4 linked regions of the Homo sapiens genome follow. The protein of the gene in region 2 purifies or fractionates together with the protein of the main gene of each other region. This does not show direct contact. Each region holds a gene or a part of one and is shown on either strand. Other genes may lie near its edges.

Region 1 (3,500 bases), on a different chromosome or scaffold from region 2:
TTGCACAAGTGACCAGAGAAGGCAAGACCTGAGTCGGGACCGTGGACGGAGGGGGCAGCTAGGTGGGGAAGAGGGATGACTCCAAGTGGCGGTAATGGTGGTGGCCACGTTGAAGTCTGCGTGATAACTATGGTGCTGGAGTTGTTTCTAGTGTCATGATTTCAAACTTGGGTTAAGCAGCTTTCTTCAATTTTCACTGACTCTCCAGTCTCTGCCCCCTGCCCACAAACTTCCTGCACCCATCCCTGCCCCTTTATCACTCACCCTACCCCCAGTAAGTACAAGGAGAAGGGCTGAGATTAGATCTGTGGGGAGGGGCGCTGGGGAGGCTGCAGACCCTGCCTGGGCCCAGACAGGGTTCACTAGTGTGCCTGTGTGTATTTGCATGTGTGTGGGCCTGTGGGTGTGTATGTGTAAAAGCCCCAGGCAGCCACAGAGCCAGGAGTCGCTAATAGTTTACATTAGAAAGGTGAATGTCAGCCAAAAATAAAATTCTAAACTCCCCCAACTAACTGAATGTAGCCCTTCTCTCGGCCCAGGGCATTCTAAAGTAAAACTGAAACACTGGTTCAGGCCATGATGGGAACGGATGTTCGGATGTTCGCACAAGCCTCATTATACCTTCCTCCCTTTGGAATTCAGGCATAGTTGACCAGCAGTGGTCAATGGGAGCTGAATAGGTGTGGGTTGAAGGGGAATCAAGAGTTGAGTTCTGGACATGTTGATATGCCCACGAGAAAACATGCAAATGTGCGTTAAAGCAAAATGCAGTGGCTCCTGCCTGTAATCCCAGCACTCTGGGAGGCCAAGGTGGGAGGATTGCTTGGGGCCAGGAGTTTGAGACCAGCCTGGGCCAGATGGCAAGACCTCATCTCTACAAAAAATTTGCCAGGTGTGGTGGCTGGTGCCCACTACTTGGGAGGCCGAGGTGGGAGGACCACTTGAGCCCGGGAGGTCAAGGATGCGGTGAGCTATGATTACACCACTGCACTCCAGACTGGGCAAAAGAGTGATACCCCGTCCCTAAAAAAAATATAAAGAAAAAGCATTCTTCAGTACAGTGAGGCATCTTTTTAGATTAGTGCTTCTTAATCATTTTAGGGGTGAAGGACCTGAGACTTCCCTCTTCAAATTAGTACCTAGAGGCATGCACACGCAATTTTGGGGGTGGTTTCAGCACCCCATGTGAGAGGCTGGAATCCCATTTTAGCCACCTCCACATGCCCTGCCTCAATATGTCACAGCCGTGCATCAGACAGATGCTTTCCTTACCACTGGTAGACAGAGATCTCATGGTTGTCCACGACCAGTTGTCCATTCCTGAATTCCACACTTCCCTTGTATCGGCCGTGGGTGGAGTCATACTTAAACATGTACACCTGTGGGGGATGGAATGGCTCCTAGTCTTGGGGTGGCAGGGTGAGGATCCCTAGAGAGTCCCCTCTTTGGTGAAGGTCTCACATTACAGCTGAGAGCCTTCCATACAGCTTCCCTGAGTCCCTTTCCCACCCCAGTCCCACCCTGCTGTTCCTGCCCTCTGCCAGCTACTGACCATGTATTCCGGGTCAATGAATGGATCATTCACAGCCACCACCTTAACACCCTTCTCCATGCAGGCGCGCAGGACCAGGCGACCGATGCGTCCAAATCTGGCCAGGGACAGACAGGAAGGGATGGGAGAGAAGGGGGTAATGGAGAGGAGGCTCCCTCAAGGAGCCTGGTTGGGAATCCTTAATCCAGGGGAAGAAGGCAACAACCTCTGTGCTGGCCATGGGCATCTCTTGCCAAGATGACCTCACCAGCCCCTTTAACTGCTTTTTCAGCTCCCTCTCCCAATCCGTTCCCTAACCCATATATACATATATATATATATATATTTTGAGATGGAATCCAGCTCTTTCGCCCAGGCTGGAGTGCAGTGGCGCTATCTGGGCTCATTGCAACCTCTGCCTCCTGGGTTCAAGTGATTCTCCTGCCTCAGCCTCCCAAGTAGCTGGGACTACAGGCGCGTACCACCACACCTGGCTAATTTTTGTATTTTTAATAGAGACGGGGTTTTGCCATGTTGGCCAGGCTGGTCTCGAACTCCTGACCTCAAGTTGATAGACCCGCCTTGGCCTCCCAAAGTGCTGGGATTACAGGCGTGAGCCACTGCGCCTGGCTCCTAACCCCTATTCTTAACCTTGTAGCTGGATGGATCTTTTATTTTTTCATTAAACAATTAAAACAATTTTTTTCTGTAGAGACAGAGTCTCGCTATGTTGCCCACGCTGGTCTCAAACTCCTGGTCTCAAAGGATTCTCCTACCTTGGCCTCCCAAAGTGCTGGGTTTACAGGTGTGAGAGCCTGGATGGATCTTAAAACTTCAAGACAGATTACGTCTCTTGGCATGAAAACATCCACGACTGTCCATCAGTAAAACAAGATCCACACTCCTTACTGTGGTGTAGCAGCCCCCTCCGGGCTTCTCACTGGCCTCCCTCCTTTTCCCTTTGCTTGGTGGACACCAGCCACTCTGACTTCCTGGCTGTCCCTGAACATACTGAGCTCGCCTCTGCCCCAGAATCATTGCTTGTCCCGCTGCCTGGAAGACTCCTTCCCCAGCAAGGTGCCCTGGGAGCTGGCTGTGTCTCATCACTCTGGTCCCGCTCCAATGACACCTTCTCCCCAAGGCCTTCCCTGATCACTGGCAAAGGCTGCCCTCTCCAGCCTGACTTTTCCACTGGATTCTACACTGTTCCCAGCACACTCTACTGAACAATCTAATTTCTTTATTTGATTACTGTCTTCCCCACCAGCATGCTGCTGAGCATGGGGCCCTGTCTGCCTTGCTCCGGGCTATTTCTCCAGGGTCGTCGGAACGAAAGCATTGATGGGGGGAAATGTGGAGGTGCCCCCAGTTAGCAGCCAGAGGAGGGGCTGGGCTCTAAGGCTTCAGACTGATCAGGGGCTGGAGTAGACTCACCCATTGATGCCCACAGTCAGCTCCCGGGCCACAGACACCATCTTAGGAGGAGGAGTAGCGGGGTGAGGAGGCAGTGGTGGCGGTGGTGGCTTTATTTCCTCCCTGACTGGTGTGGGCTCTGGTTGTGGCTGGGGCTCTACTTCAGCCTTAGGCTCAGGTGGGGGCGGTGCTCTGGTCACTATGCGGGGGAAGGGAGGGAATGGGTTGCATGACCACCAAAGTGAAAGAGAACAAACTGTCTTTGCTGCCCAGAATCTGTTGCTGGCTCCTGGCCCCTCGTGACCAACCATTTAGCCCAGTGTTTCCCAAACCCACTTTCTCTACAGAATGAACTTGTTTAAAATGTCAATCCCAAGGGCTCTTTCCTGGAGATTCTAATTCACTGGTTATGTACTTCCGTTGTTTTTTTTTTCCCGAGACAGAGTATTGCTCTGTCACCCAGGCTGGAGTGCAGTGGACTGATCTTGGCTTACTGCAACCTCCGCCTCCTGGGTTCAAGTGATTCTCCTGCCTCAGCCTCCCGAGTAGCTGGGAT
Region 2 (5,040 bases):
TCTCAGCTCATTCCCACACAGCAGCTGGACAATCTTTGCACCACGCGAATCTGACCATGCCACCAGCCAGATTAAAGCCTTCCATGGTTCGGCTGGGCAAGGTGGCTCATGCCTATAATCCCAGCACTTTAGGAGGCTGAGGCGGGCGGATCACAAGGTAAGGAGATTGAGACCATCCTGGCTAACATGGTGAAACCCCGTCTCTACTAAAAAATACAAAAAATTAGCCGGGTGTGGTGGCAGGCACCTGTAGTCCCAGCTATCAGGAGGCTGAGGCAGGAGAATGGCGTGAACCCGGGAGGTGAAGCATGCAGTGAGCCGAGATCGCGACACTGCACTCCAGCCTGGGCGACAGAGTGATACTCCATCTCAAAAACAAACACAAAAACAAACAAGCAAACAAAAAAAAAACCTTCCATGGTTCCCTACTATCCTAAGGATGGAGTCCAGACCCACCCTCCCAGCACCCCAGGCCCTGTGTGTCCAGCCCCACGCCCATTTCCCACCACTGCCACCTCCACTCTGTGCTCCAGCCACACAGAATTTCTTTCACTTCCTCCCACCCGCGCTTTCTTGCCTCTGAGCCACCTCCCACCCCATGATATTTCTCTCCCCTCACTCCCCTCTACTTTGTTTGGCAGACTCCTACTCATCCTTCGGCCCTGGGTGCAGACATCTCCTCCTCCAGGAAGCCCTCCCTGATCCCTAGGACTTGTTAGGGACCCCCACCCCTGTGTGTAATGGGTTGTATTTCCTTGCTGTCTCTCCACCAGACAGGGAGAGGCTGAGTCAGCTCTGGGTGCTTGAGGCCACCCATCTCAAGACCTGGCAGGGAGCAGGCACTGGGGAAGGGTGGATGGTCAGAGTCTCTGACGCCATCACCCAGCTTGTCACCAAGCCGGGTTCCAAGCCGAAACGTAGTTCAGTACCTCCTGGCCCTGTCTCTAATTCTTCCTCCTCTCCAGCTGCTTCCTTGGGCCTGTTGGCAGAGACAGTACAGATGCTAGGCGAATGGGAAGAGAGCAGAGGGGATCCCATCCACGTGACTTTGGGCCCAAAGGTGGGGTGTGGGAAACAGGGAAAGGAGCACTGGATTGGGAGTCAAGCTTGGGTTTAAGTCGCATCTCTGTTTTCTCAGGCTGTGTGACCTGGGGTGAGCCACTCCATCTCTCTGGGTCTCCACTTTCCCATCTAAAGGATCGGAACAATACCTGCCTCGCAGGGTTTTGGTGGAATCAAGTGGTATACACTGTAGAGGTCAGTGAGCAGCTGGGAGGTTAGAATTGCTGTCTGTCCAGGAGGGGTCAGGCCTGTAGCCAGCACTGGGGTCTCGCTCTGATTTAGCATCTCCCAGCTGGCTGGGGTCACACAGGGAACTGCAGGAAAGGCCCTTAGAGGCCATCAGGTCCTGCCTCCTCCCTTTACCCAAGGGGAGGTAGAGACCCAGAGAGGGGCAGCACTTGCCTGAAGTCACACAATAGGTGTGAATGAATAGCTGCAAAGGCCCAGGACTGAAACCTGGTCCCTTCACACCGTCACCTCCCTGGTTCGCCCAACCCTGAGGTAATGCCCAGAGAGGACAATAGAGTAGTCCAGGCTCATACAGCCAGCATGGGGTAGAATTCAGGCCTGAGAGTTCAAGACCAACCTGGGCAAGATGGCTAGACTCCATCTCCAAAAAATAAAAAGATTAGCCGGGTGCAGTGGTGCACACCTATAGCCCCAGCTACTCAGGAGGCTGAGGCAGGAGGAACCATTGAGCCCAGGAATTCAAGGCGGCAGTGAGCTGTGATCCCGCCACTGCACTCCCTGGGTGACAAAGCAAGACCCCGCCTCTTAAAAAAAAAATTAGCCGGGTGTGGTGGTGGGCGCCTGTAGTCCCAGCTACTGGGGAGGCTGAGGCAGGAGAATGGCGTGAACCCGGAGATGGAGCTTGCAGTGAGCTGAGATCGCGCCACTGCACTCCAGCCTGGGTGACAGAGCGAGACTCTGTCTCAAAAAAAAAAAAAAAAAAAAAAAAAAAAAAAAAAAGATGGCCAAGCAAGGTGGCTCATGCCTGTAATCCCAGCACTTTGGGAGGCCGAGGTGGGCGGATCATGAGGTCAGGAGACTGAGACCATCATGGCTAACACAGTGAAACCCTGTCTGTACTAAAAATACAAAAAATTAGCTGGGCCTGGTGGCACACACCTGTAGTCCCAACTACTCAGGAGGCTGAGGCAGGAGAATCGCTTAGAACCTGGGAGGCAGAGGTTGCAGTGAGCCGAGATTACGCGACTGCACTCCAGCCTGGGTGACAGAGCAAGACTCCATCTCAAAAATAATAATAATAATAATAATAGAATTCAGGCCTGAGGCCACATGGAGCCACACACCTCCTCCCTGTGTGGCCCTGGCAGGGCGACCTCCCTGGGCCCTGTTTCCCTAGCCCTGTGAAGATGAAGCTGGACTTGCCAGTTTCCAAGGCCACCCCAGCTCTGATTCTCCAGGATTTGTGTTGGGCCCGCTAGGGATACGATTTGCAAGTTACAGTTAAGTATCCAGGCCCCCTTACCAGCCGTTTGGGGAGCTGGCACGTGCAGTGATGCTTGGCCACCTGAGCTACACAGAAAGACCCAATGGGAGAAGGGAAGCCTCTCCCCACGCAAGTTAATCAACTGCCCTTTGGGTGTTGCGGCTGATACAGAACCTCAGAGGCACAGTCTGGCCTCATGCACAAGTCATTTTTCCTGAGTCCTGGATTCCTTGCTAAGTGGGAATAATCACAATAATCTTGGTGTGTAAAATATAAAGGCTTAGGCAAGGCCAGGCGTGGTGGCTCACGCCTGTAATCCCAGCACTTTGGGAGGCCAAGGTGGGCAGATCATCTGAGGCCAGGAGTTCAAGAACGGCCTGGCCAACATGGTGAAATCCTGTCTCTACTAAAGAAAAAAAAAAATGCAAAAATTAGCCAGGTGTGGTGGCGCACACCTATAGTCCCAGCTACTTGGGAGGCTGAGGCAGAAGAATTGCATGAACCCGGGAGGTGGAGGTTTCAGTGAGCTGAGAACAAGCCACTGGACTCCAGCCTGGGCAACAGAGCGAGACTCCATCAAAAAAAAAAAAAAAAAAAAAGGAGGCATAGGCAAGAAAGATCACCTCATCTCACCATCATCCCACTATCCACAAGCAACAGAGACATCACTAACCACACACAGCACCAATTCCCAGTGAGGCAGGCCACAGCCCCTGAGTCTTTCTCAGCACAGAACTGTTTTCTCCTGAGCTTGGACACAGCCTAGAATCCTCAACACTGCCTCCAGACCAGGCCTGAGAGATGGAACCATCAGCCATTCCCTATCCTTGATAATAGCGGAAGCTGGCTGTGATTGTAAATACCCTCAGGTGCTAGGAAGGTTTTGAACCTGCTCTTCCCCCACTCCTCCATGCCCTCCTGTCCGAGCCTCAGCCCCCTCAACCGCATCCTGGATGTCAGCTGAGGCACCCACGTTTGCCCAGGAATGTCCTAGCTCAGCAGTCAGGCAATCACAGGGGGAAAGTCACAAGAAGGGGGAACTTTCTGGTAACCTCAGGCTTTCCGCTGCCAACCCCAGGCCAGGGGCTGCCAAGGGGCCTGGGTCCTCTGCCTTTGCCAGGCTGGCTGACCCTGGGCCTGAGAAATAGTAGCTGATCCGATCCCCTGTTCAGCACCTGAGGCAACCAAGCCACTGTTTGGTAGCCGTGGCGGACTGGAACCCAGGGGTCCTCTGTCTTCTATGTCGGCCACCACCACCTCTCCCTGGCTTCTTCCCTTGGAAGCCAGCAGAGCTGACCTCCAGGGTCTGCAGGTTCATGACGTCTTCTGGAGGCATAAGGAGAGAGGTGACTCTTGAGGGACTGACAACTGCCTTGTCCAGTCAGCAGCCACAACCCTCCAACGTCCCCCTCCCTGGCCCCACCAGTCCACTCCAGAGACATCCTGTAGAAGGCCCACCCGCTGGCATGGGCTCCTTTCTGGCTGCTGAGCCATTCTGCTCGCTCTGTGAGGACAGGGAAAAAATGTGTTTTCCTAGCTCTTGGCAGTCAGCACTGCTGGAGCCTCCTCCCTGCTGGAAGGGGAGCAAGGCTGGAAGAACCAAGCACCACAGAGAAGCAACGGCCTGGGGTTCCAGCCCCAGTTCAGGTACCCTCTCACACTCGCTGTGTGGCCTCAGGTACGGCACTCCCTCTCTCTGGGCCTCAGTTTTCCCACTATGCCAAACGTCCTCCGAGCCTAAGGTACCTTCCAACAATGACTGTCTCTGAGTTTAGAGTTTCAGATTCTGGCCCAGAGCTCCAAGACCACCAGCAGAATGGAGGTAGGGAAAGGAAAGCGGTGAAGGCTTCCTGGAGGTGGGGGCATGAGACACAAACTATCAGACTATCAGACTAGCCCTCTTCTCCACCTGCACAGCCACAGACCACTTCCTCCTTCATCTGGACCATGACCACAACCGCCTGCTCACCAGCCTCTTGCCTTGCCCTCCGTCTCCAATCCCCATCATTGATCCTCCCCCAAGAGCTGTCAGAGGAATCACTACTGACACAAACCCACGAGCCTGTCCGTGCTTGGCCCATTTCAAAACCCTGCAATGCCAGCCTCCCCGCAAGCCAACACAGTAGGGTCCTCAGGCCTCAACCGTATTCCTGTCCACTCTCTCCCAGGATCGTATGCTAACAGATGAATGAACAGACAGCAAATTCTACTATCCCTGAATGTTTCCCAAAGGGACAAGCGGGCAGTGCATGCCTGTGTGTGTGAGGGAGGAAGTTGCCTGAGTCCTGAAGGATTTGCTCGCTTTTGGGAGACTGCTTCAAGATTCCCCCAGCCCCTGCCCTGGCTTCCTGTTTCTCTGGGGTTCCCAGGCCTTTTTCTCCATGTGTTGTGGAGCTCTTAGAGGGCAGGGATCCAGGGCTCATTCATTCAATCAGCAAACATCCAAGAAGCACCTACTATGTTCCAGGCTCTGTGCTGGGCCCTGGAGACCCTGAAGTGAATCACAGCTCCTGCCTTCAAGGGCT
Region 3 (3,500 bases), on a different chromosome or scaffold from region 2:
GCCTACTGTGTGCCCGCACCACCACACCTCCATCTAGTCCAGCTGCCCAAAGACACAGATCCCATGAGTGTGCCAAGGCTCAGAGAGGTGAAGCAACTTGCTCAATGCTACACGACCACGTTGATAAGTGGCAGAGCAGGGGTGTGAGCTACTCTTCTGCATGAAGTGAGTAGATGGGAGGAAAGGGTCAGGATTAGCCTCTGCCCTAGGGGGGTGCTGCCCCTTGGAAGCTGCAGATTCCAGATGGGGGTGTATGTGGGTGAGGGGGAAACGCCCTCATGCTCAGCACACTCTGCCTGAGGGGAAGGAAGAACCACCCGACTGAGCCCTGTACCTGCAGCAGCGTGGGAGGCCAGGCGCTGTGGCGAAGGTGCTTGACAATGGAGATGTGGCGTCCCAGGCTCCGGTGCACGCTGCAGCACTCGTCACACACCAGCACACCCCTGCTGATGGATGCCCAGCCAGGGTCTGCCAGGGTGAGGGCAAGGGTCAGCCGGAGCCAGATGATGGGCCAGACCTCCTGAGCACCTGCTCTGGCCCGTGCCAAGCCTAGTACTCTCCACACATTCACTCACTCAGTCTCCAACAGCCTAGGAGCTGGGACCATCACTACGGCCAGGTTACCAGTGAGGGATCTCCCCAAGAGCTCACAGCTGGGGGCTGACAGAGCCATGCCCTTTCCTACATCCTTACCCCTCTGGGATATGCAGTCCCCAGGGCCCATTCAGCAGGCACAGTTTCCTGCCCTGCAGCCACTGCTACCAGTCTCTCAGCCTTTTCCCAGGAAACGAGGTCTCTGCCCCAGCCCGTCCCGAAGGGAGGAAGGGATCCCCAAGGGGATGCAACCCAGATGCTGCTGCATGCCAGATGCTGTTGAAACATGCCTGACAGATCACACCCGTCCACAGGTCCTGCCTCTGGCCTCCTGCCAGCAGGTGAGGTCCTTTCATGCTGGAGCCTCCTGCCATCATCACTGAGGGTGTAAGCTGGAGCCCTCTTAAGGAAGATGGACAGAGCAAAGGAGCTGGGCTTGACTGGGCACCCACTAGGTACCAGCTGGGTACATTATGTGTGATGCTGCTTGCAACTGTCAGGCAAGGTAGGACATGCTACCTCTGTGATGAAGAAACAGTGGCTCAGAGAGGTTAAAGGGCTTATTCAAGGATGCGAGGCTAATGAGTAGAATTGCCAGGATGTGGCACTTTCATGCCTGAGACCATGCCATGTCCACACTTGCTGCTGTCCCTCTGCCTCTATAGCCTGCTCTCCACTCTTTTGGGAAAAGTGAACTTGGGAGAAGAAGCAGGGCCAGGACTGGGTGGGAGTTCCGGGGTTCTTCTCAAGGGTGGAGGAGATGCCACCCATCCTAGGCCCCTTGGGAGACAGCTGCATACGACTCAGGCTGCGGAAAGGTCACGGGGGAGAAAGCAGCCATTGTGTGCCGCCTGAGAGTGGGGGCAGGGCGCCTCTCTCCCAGGACACTTTGCTCTGCCCAGCGGCCCCCACCCTGTCTCAGGAAACCCTGTCCTGGGGTGGGGGTGGGGGACTGGCTCTCTGCCTTGCCCTGTAGCGCTCAGGGTGTTCAGAAGTATCCCCATCAGGGGAGGGACAGGCTTAGGGGGATAAGAATCTCTCCCAACTAGAAGGCAATTCTCAGGCCTTTCCCCTCTAAGGACTTCCACCAAAGTTCCCAGGAAAATTGAGGAGACTCTGAGTCAGGGGCCCAGCCTGAGCTCTGCCCACAGCAAGTGACCCCCACTGAGGCATGAAAACAGGAAGTAAAGGAGAGAGGCCTGTCTTTGGGTTTAGGCTTTTTTTTTTTTTTTTTTTTTGAGACGGAGTCCCGCTCTGTCGCCCAGGCTGGAGTGCAGCGGGTTTAGGCTTTTTAAGGGACCCCCTCCCAATCAGGGCAACAGAGGGATGCCCAAGGTGACCGCCAACACCTTCCTGGGGGGCTGACTCCAGGGCTCAGGAGGAAGGGACCAGCCTTCTTCGCCAAGAGGGGGAGCCCTAGCATGCACTTCTGGGCTGGCTTTACCCAAATAGTGAGGCACCCCAGGTGTGGAGACCTCCCTCTCCCCACTCCAAACACCACTGGGTCAGGGGGCTGCCAGCCAGCCACCTCCAGCAGCCCAGGCAGGAAGCCGGAAATGATGCAGCCCAAATTCCTCTTGGTGGGGTTTCCTGTAAGTGGGGAGCCGCCCAGGGCAGGATCATAAATGGGCTGATCTGAGGTCTGTGGTCCTACCGGAGAAGCCAGGCATGGAAGGCTGACTATATATCCACGGCCAATGGCTCCAGAGCCCTAAGCCATGGGCAGACCAGATGTGGTGAGTGACCCTGGCTATGGCAGTAACCAAGACCAGGATGCAGGAGTGTGGTCCAAGGGTTTGCCTGGCACTTTCCCCCAGCCTGGGGGAGGGGTTCTCCTTCTCCTCCAGGTGACCTGAGAAGAATGGTAGGCAAAGGACACTGTCCTGGTCTGGGCAGCCGCTATTGGTGTCAGCTCATTTCTGGATGACACAGATGGGACGCCCACCCTAACCATTCTGTCTCCTCCCTCTGTGCAAGTGCCCTTGGGACTACCCAGATTGTAGTTTAAGGTGAAGGGATCCTTGCGTCAAGAAGCTCCTTGGACCAAACCTGGGACGGAAAGGACAGGAACTGTAAGGGAACTCGTCAGCCCTCCCCCTGCGCTTCTGGCTCCACCGGCAGGGTATGGGTCTGTATGTGTGGAGAGGTAGCAGGCGTGATCCTGGGATCACGTTAACCAGTGCCAACCCCATGGAGGCCTCTACTACGGTGAATTCCTGCCACCACCTGAAGCCATCAGTGGCCTCCAGGGCCAGTAGGTTTGCACATACAGGCTAGCCTCAGGCCTCCCTCCCCTGAGCTAAGGGCCAGATCTCCACTAGACTAAGGGAAAAGCCCACATCATGAAGGCAGGCGAGAGTAGTCCTTGGGGTAGAGTCAGAATGGTGGTTACCTCTGGGGTGCACGGACTGGGAGGGGGTACTTGGAAGCCCCCTAAGGTGATGGAAATGTTCTATAACATGCTTGTCTAACCTGCAGTCCATATGCGGCCCAGGCAGCTTTGAATGTGGCCCAACACAAATTCATAAACTTTCTTAAAACATTATGAGACTTTTTTGTGACTTTATTTTTTATTTTTATTTTTGCTTGTTTTATTTAGCTCACCAGCTATCATTAGTGTTAGCGTATTTTAGGTGTGGCCCAAGAAAATTCTTCTTCCAATGTGGCCCAGGGAAGCAAAAAGATTGGATACCCTTATTCTATAACATGATCAGAGCAGTAGTTACATGGGTATACACACATGTAAAAGCCCATCAGGATGAACACTCAGGTGCAGGCATTGACACACACAAATTCTACCTCCATAAGGGAGGAAGAGGAGCCCAACATTTGTCCCACTCTGCAATCTACACTATGAAGAGACAAATCAGCCTGTAGCTTGTCCCGTAACATGTCCCCGGCCTTGC
Region 4 (3,500 bases), on a different chromosome or scaffold from region 2:
CTCTGATTATATCCAACAGATACACATTCTTGTCATAAAATATACATTCTCTAGTAAGTTATTTTCATCCACAGCATATATAAATATGCAAACACAGGTGGTAAAAATCACTTTACTACCAAAGTACAAAACAGCAACTGCTGAAAAACAAAAATTAAGATGTTGCACGTGTTAAGAAAAGAGTGACTCAGTGTTCCACTGCAAAGTGAAACCAAATGATTTATTTGTGCTAAATGAATGGAAATAATGTATTCAGAATATACTTCTTTGTACACTGCACTTGCTTATACTGGGTGAAATGAACAGCCATCAATGCTAATGTGCTACTTTCCTTTAGACCTTATTTTCTTTTCTGCCAAGCAATACAATATTTTCTGGCCATTATGCCAAGATAATGCGATAATGTCCATTTCAAATAGTATTTTCTAATGGTATTTTGCACCTTTAAAATATTTGTTCAAACTCTATTTTAAGAGAACACAAATGAAGTACGAAAGGGGGAAGCCGCATTGTTTTTGTTACAATCACACTGCCTTCTGCAGCAGAAATCAAATAACACATTCTAATTAGCCATTGAAACCACCGGTGAGTAGGACAACATTTATCGACTCATGTTAGAGGGGGCCAGGTTAAGTAGATTAACATTAAGGATAAAAAAGAGAATCACATCTTAATATACGATAATTATCCATCCCATTTATGTGGAGAAGGTACAGCCACATGATTCATTACTTTGGGCCATCTGTTTTACGAGAGACATGGATGTCAATAACACAATGAAAATAACCTGTAAAAAATGTATCTGTAGAAAGTTCTGTTAAACAGAAAATATGTCTTGGGCACTGATTCATCTAACTTTCTGTTCTACACTGAAAGCCAGATTTTCAAAGGTCTGAATTGTAGTGCTGAATTATTGGTATGTTTGGTAAACACTATTATAATGAGAGGAGGGTAACAACAGCTCAGTAATTTTCTGCAGATTCATGGAAAAAAATATAAAAAAGATATCCCTTTTTCTTTTACAAACCTAAAAGCCAGGAGAATGAAGCTCTGGGCCAAGCAAAAATTGCACACTGCTGCTGAAATACCAAATACCAAACAGCGAAGGTTCCAGCCAGGGAATGGACGTACATGAAGATTCAAGTAAAACACTGATGGAAAAAGTCGTCTGGTTAGTGTTGTAGACCCACAACACTGGCTGCATTTCTGACAAACATTTACAACACAATGGATAGTGAAGCCTAGATAACCTCAGTGCAAATAAGTCATATCCAAATATGCCAGAGAAGGAAGCCTTTGGCGTTGAGTAGACGGCTCCATTGGATGAGTCCCAACTTGAAATTCAGACTAAGCTCATGCATTAAGGCTGGGAGGAGGGGTGCGCCGAATGTTGCGAAGGAGTAGGCTGCGAGGTGGCTGCTGAGGGGACCGTGGGCTGCATGGGTGGCGGAGGTGGAGGCGGAGGTGGCTGGACTGGGGTCTGTGTGTTGGGAGATGGAGGCGGCGTGGGCCGTTTGAATTTGTCAGGACTGTTGCTTCTCCGTGGTGAAGGCCTCTGCAGAGGGGACAGGAACAGCAAGTCAGTCTAGGTACAGGTGGATCTCATTCTACCTAACACAGCCTGACTTGGCACTGGGGCTAATCAAACACTAACCAACAAAGACAAGAAACCAGGGATTTCTTTCTTCATCCCTACTGGTTTCTGAACTAGTAATAAAATTTAAATAAGGCAGTGTTTACACTTCCACCTATGAAAAAGCTACATAAAATTACTGCACAACTTGTGTTGAACAAACTGCTGGACTTGGGTCCTTCAACGAGAGCTGTAAAATATCCCCTTAAATCTTTCTTTCCGTGTGTGTCACCAATTCCCTCTATTGCTTATCTCCAATAAGTTGTCCACATCCTGAAAGATACAGCTCAACAGAAATGTTTCTATGTTTGAGGCCGGGTGCAGTGGCTCACACCTGTAATCCTAGCACTTTAGGAGGTAGAGGTGGGTGGATAACCTGAGGCCAGGAGTTCGAGACCAGCCTGGCCAACAGGGCAAAACCCCGTCTCTATTAAAAATACAAAAAGCAGCCAGGTGTGGTGCCGTGTGCCTGTAATACCAGCTACTCGGGAGGCTGAGGCAAGAGAATCCCTTGAGCTCCGGAGGCGGATGTTGCAGTGAGCAGACATCATGCTGCTGAACTCCAGCCTGGATGACAGAGTGAGGAAAAAAAAAAAAAAAGTTCCTACTTTTACATAAAGTCCATCAAACTGGCCAAACAGCTTCAGAAATACCTTAAGTGCATTCTTAGAATAGGGTTCTTCTTTAAAATATTATAATTTATTCTTTGAAATATTGGTATTTCTGTTATTGGAAATACCCTTAATAATACTCTCACTCTACTAGCTACATTTCTAATGGCTCTATTAGTCAACTATATTGCCGACTCTAAAGAAAAAACTCCCTTGGGTAGAGTTGGAACCAGATGCACTTAAGCTTCCTTGTAATTCGAGGAGAGAAAATTCTGAGTAACATTACAAACAAGGCTAACTTCAGGAAGAATACTGAAGGTCAGTGAACTGTGAAGGTGCAGACAATAAATATCTTTAGACATTATGGCAACCAACAATAATGCAAGGAGCTGGCCAGAGTTCAATCAAAGCACTGGCCAGAGTTCAAATTATATTTCACAAAGGGTAATTTTTCATAGGAAGTGAAGTTAAAGTTTTGTCTCCTGGGAAGGATTTTAGTTTCAATACCAGAATTTGGTATCAAACTGTTTAAGTCTCTACAGTTTCAAGGTGAACGGATGGAGGAGGCAGGAAGAAGGGCAAATGTCTAAGGGCACCGATCCTGTTCTCCAGAACACCAGTCGGTACCACTTTCAGGAGTAAAGTGCTGCTTCCTACCCCACGGACACTTACTGTGATACCATGGGATGTTCCCATGTGCTGCACGTGAAGACCCGGGGAATTGTAATAAGACATTCCAGCTCTAGTCAGTGAAGTTGGTGGCGTGAAACCAACCGTGTGACTTGCATATGATAGACCTAAAATATAACAACAAATTAAGTATCATTTTAAGCTCAACTATCTGGTGTCTTCAACTATCTAGGAGGTTTTAAATCGCAGTAGTTCTCTATCACCCACAAAAATACAAACAGATGAAAAGAATGATGGGCTCACTAAATGGTGTGGATAACAAGGGAAATAAATGTTAATTCCTAGGATAGAACAGAGAGCCCAGAAATAAACTCACACGTATATGGTCAACTGATCTTCAAAAAGGGCACCAAGAATACACAACGGGGAAAGAGAACAGTCTCTTCAACAGATGGTGTTGGGAAAACTGGATATTCACATGCAGAGGAGTGACACTGGACCTTATCTCTTACACTATATACAAAAGTCAACTCAAAATGGATTAAAGACTTAACTATAAGACCTTAAACTATAAAACTCTTAGAAGGAAAATAGGGGAAAAGCTCCCTGACATTGATCTTAGCAAT

What was found. Proteins that work in one complex are often made in the same cells at the same time.
Region 1: the proteins of MAFF (region 2) and GAPDHS purify together in Homo sapiens (affinity purification with mass spectrometry; 3 studies listed by BioGRID and IntAct, with this or other methods). This does not show direct contact.
Region 3: the proteins of MAFF (region 2) and GIT1 purify together in Homo sapiens (affinity purification with mass spectrometry; 3 studies listed by BioGRID and IntAct, with this or other methods). This does not show direct contact.
Region 4: the proteins of MAFF (region 2) and CCDC6 purify together in Homo sapiens (affinity purification with mass spectrometry; 3 studies listed by BioGRID and IntAct, with this or other methods). This does not show direct contact.

What each region holds. Positions count from the first base shown.
Region 1 is NC_000019.10:35,536,456-35,539,955, reverse strand, and holds part of GAPDHS (glyceraldehyde-3-phosphate dehydrogenase, testis-specific), read right to left. Parts: intron 3,144-3,500; coding exon 2,966-3,143; intron 1,650-2,965; coding exon 1,553-1,649; intron 1,380-1,552; coding exon 1,273-1,379; intron 1-1,272. UniProt on the Homo sapiens protein: May play an important role in regulating the switch between different pathways for energy production during spermiogenesis and in the spermatozoon. Required for sperm motility and male fertility.
Region 2 is NC_000022.11:38,204,415-38,209,454, reverse strand, and holds part of MAFF (transcription factor MafF), read right to left. Parts: intron 1-5,040. UniProt on the Homo sapiens protein: Since they lack a putative transactivation domain, the small Mafs behave as transcriptional repressors when they dimerize among themselves.
Region 3 is NC_000017.11:29,583,149-29,586,648, forward strand, and holds part of GIT1 (ARF GTPase-activating protein GIT1), read right to left. Parts: intron 469-3,500; coding exon 335-468; intron 1-334. UniProt on the Homo sapiens protein: GTPase-activating protein for ADP ribosylation factor family members, including ARF1.
Region 4 is NC_000010.11:59,791,557-59,795,056, forward strand, and holds part of CCDC6 (coiled-coil domain-containing protein 6), read right to left. Parts: intron 3,042-3,500; coding exon 2,917-3,041; intron 1,556-2,916; coding exon 1,361-1,555; 3' UTR 1-1,360.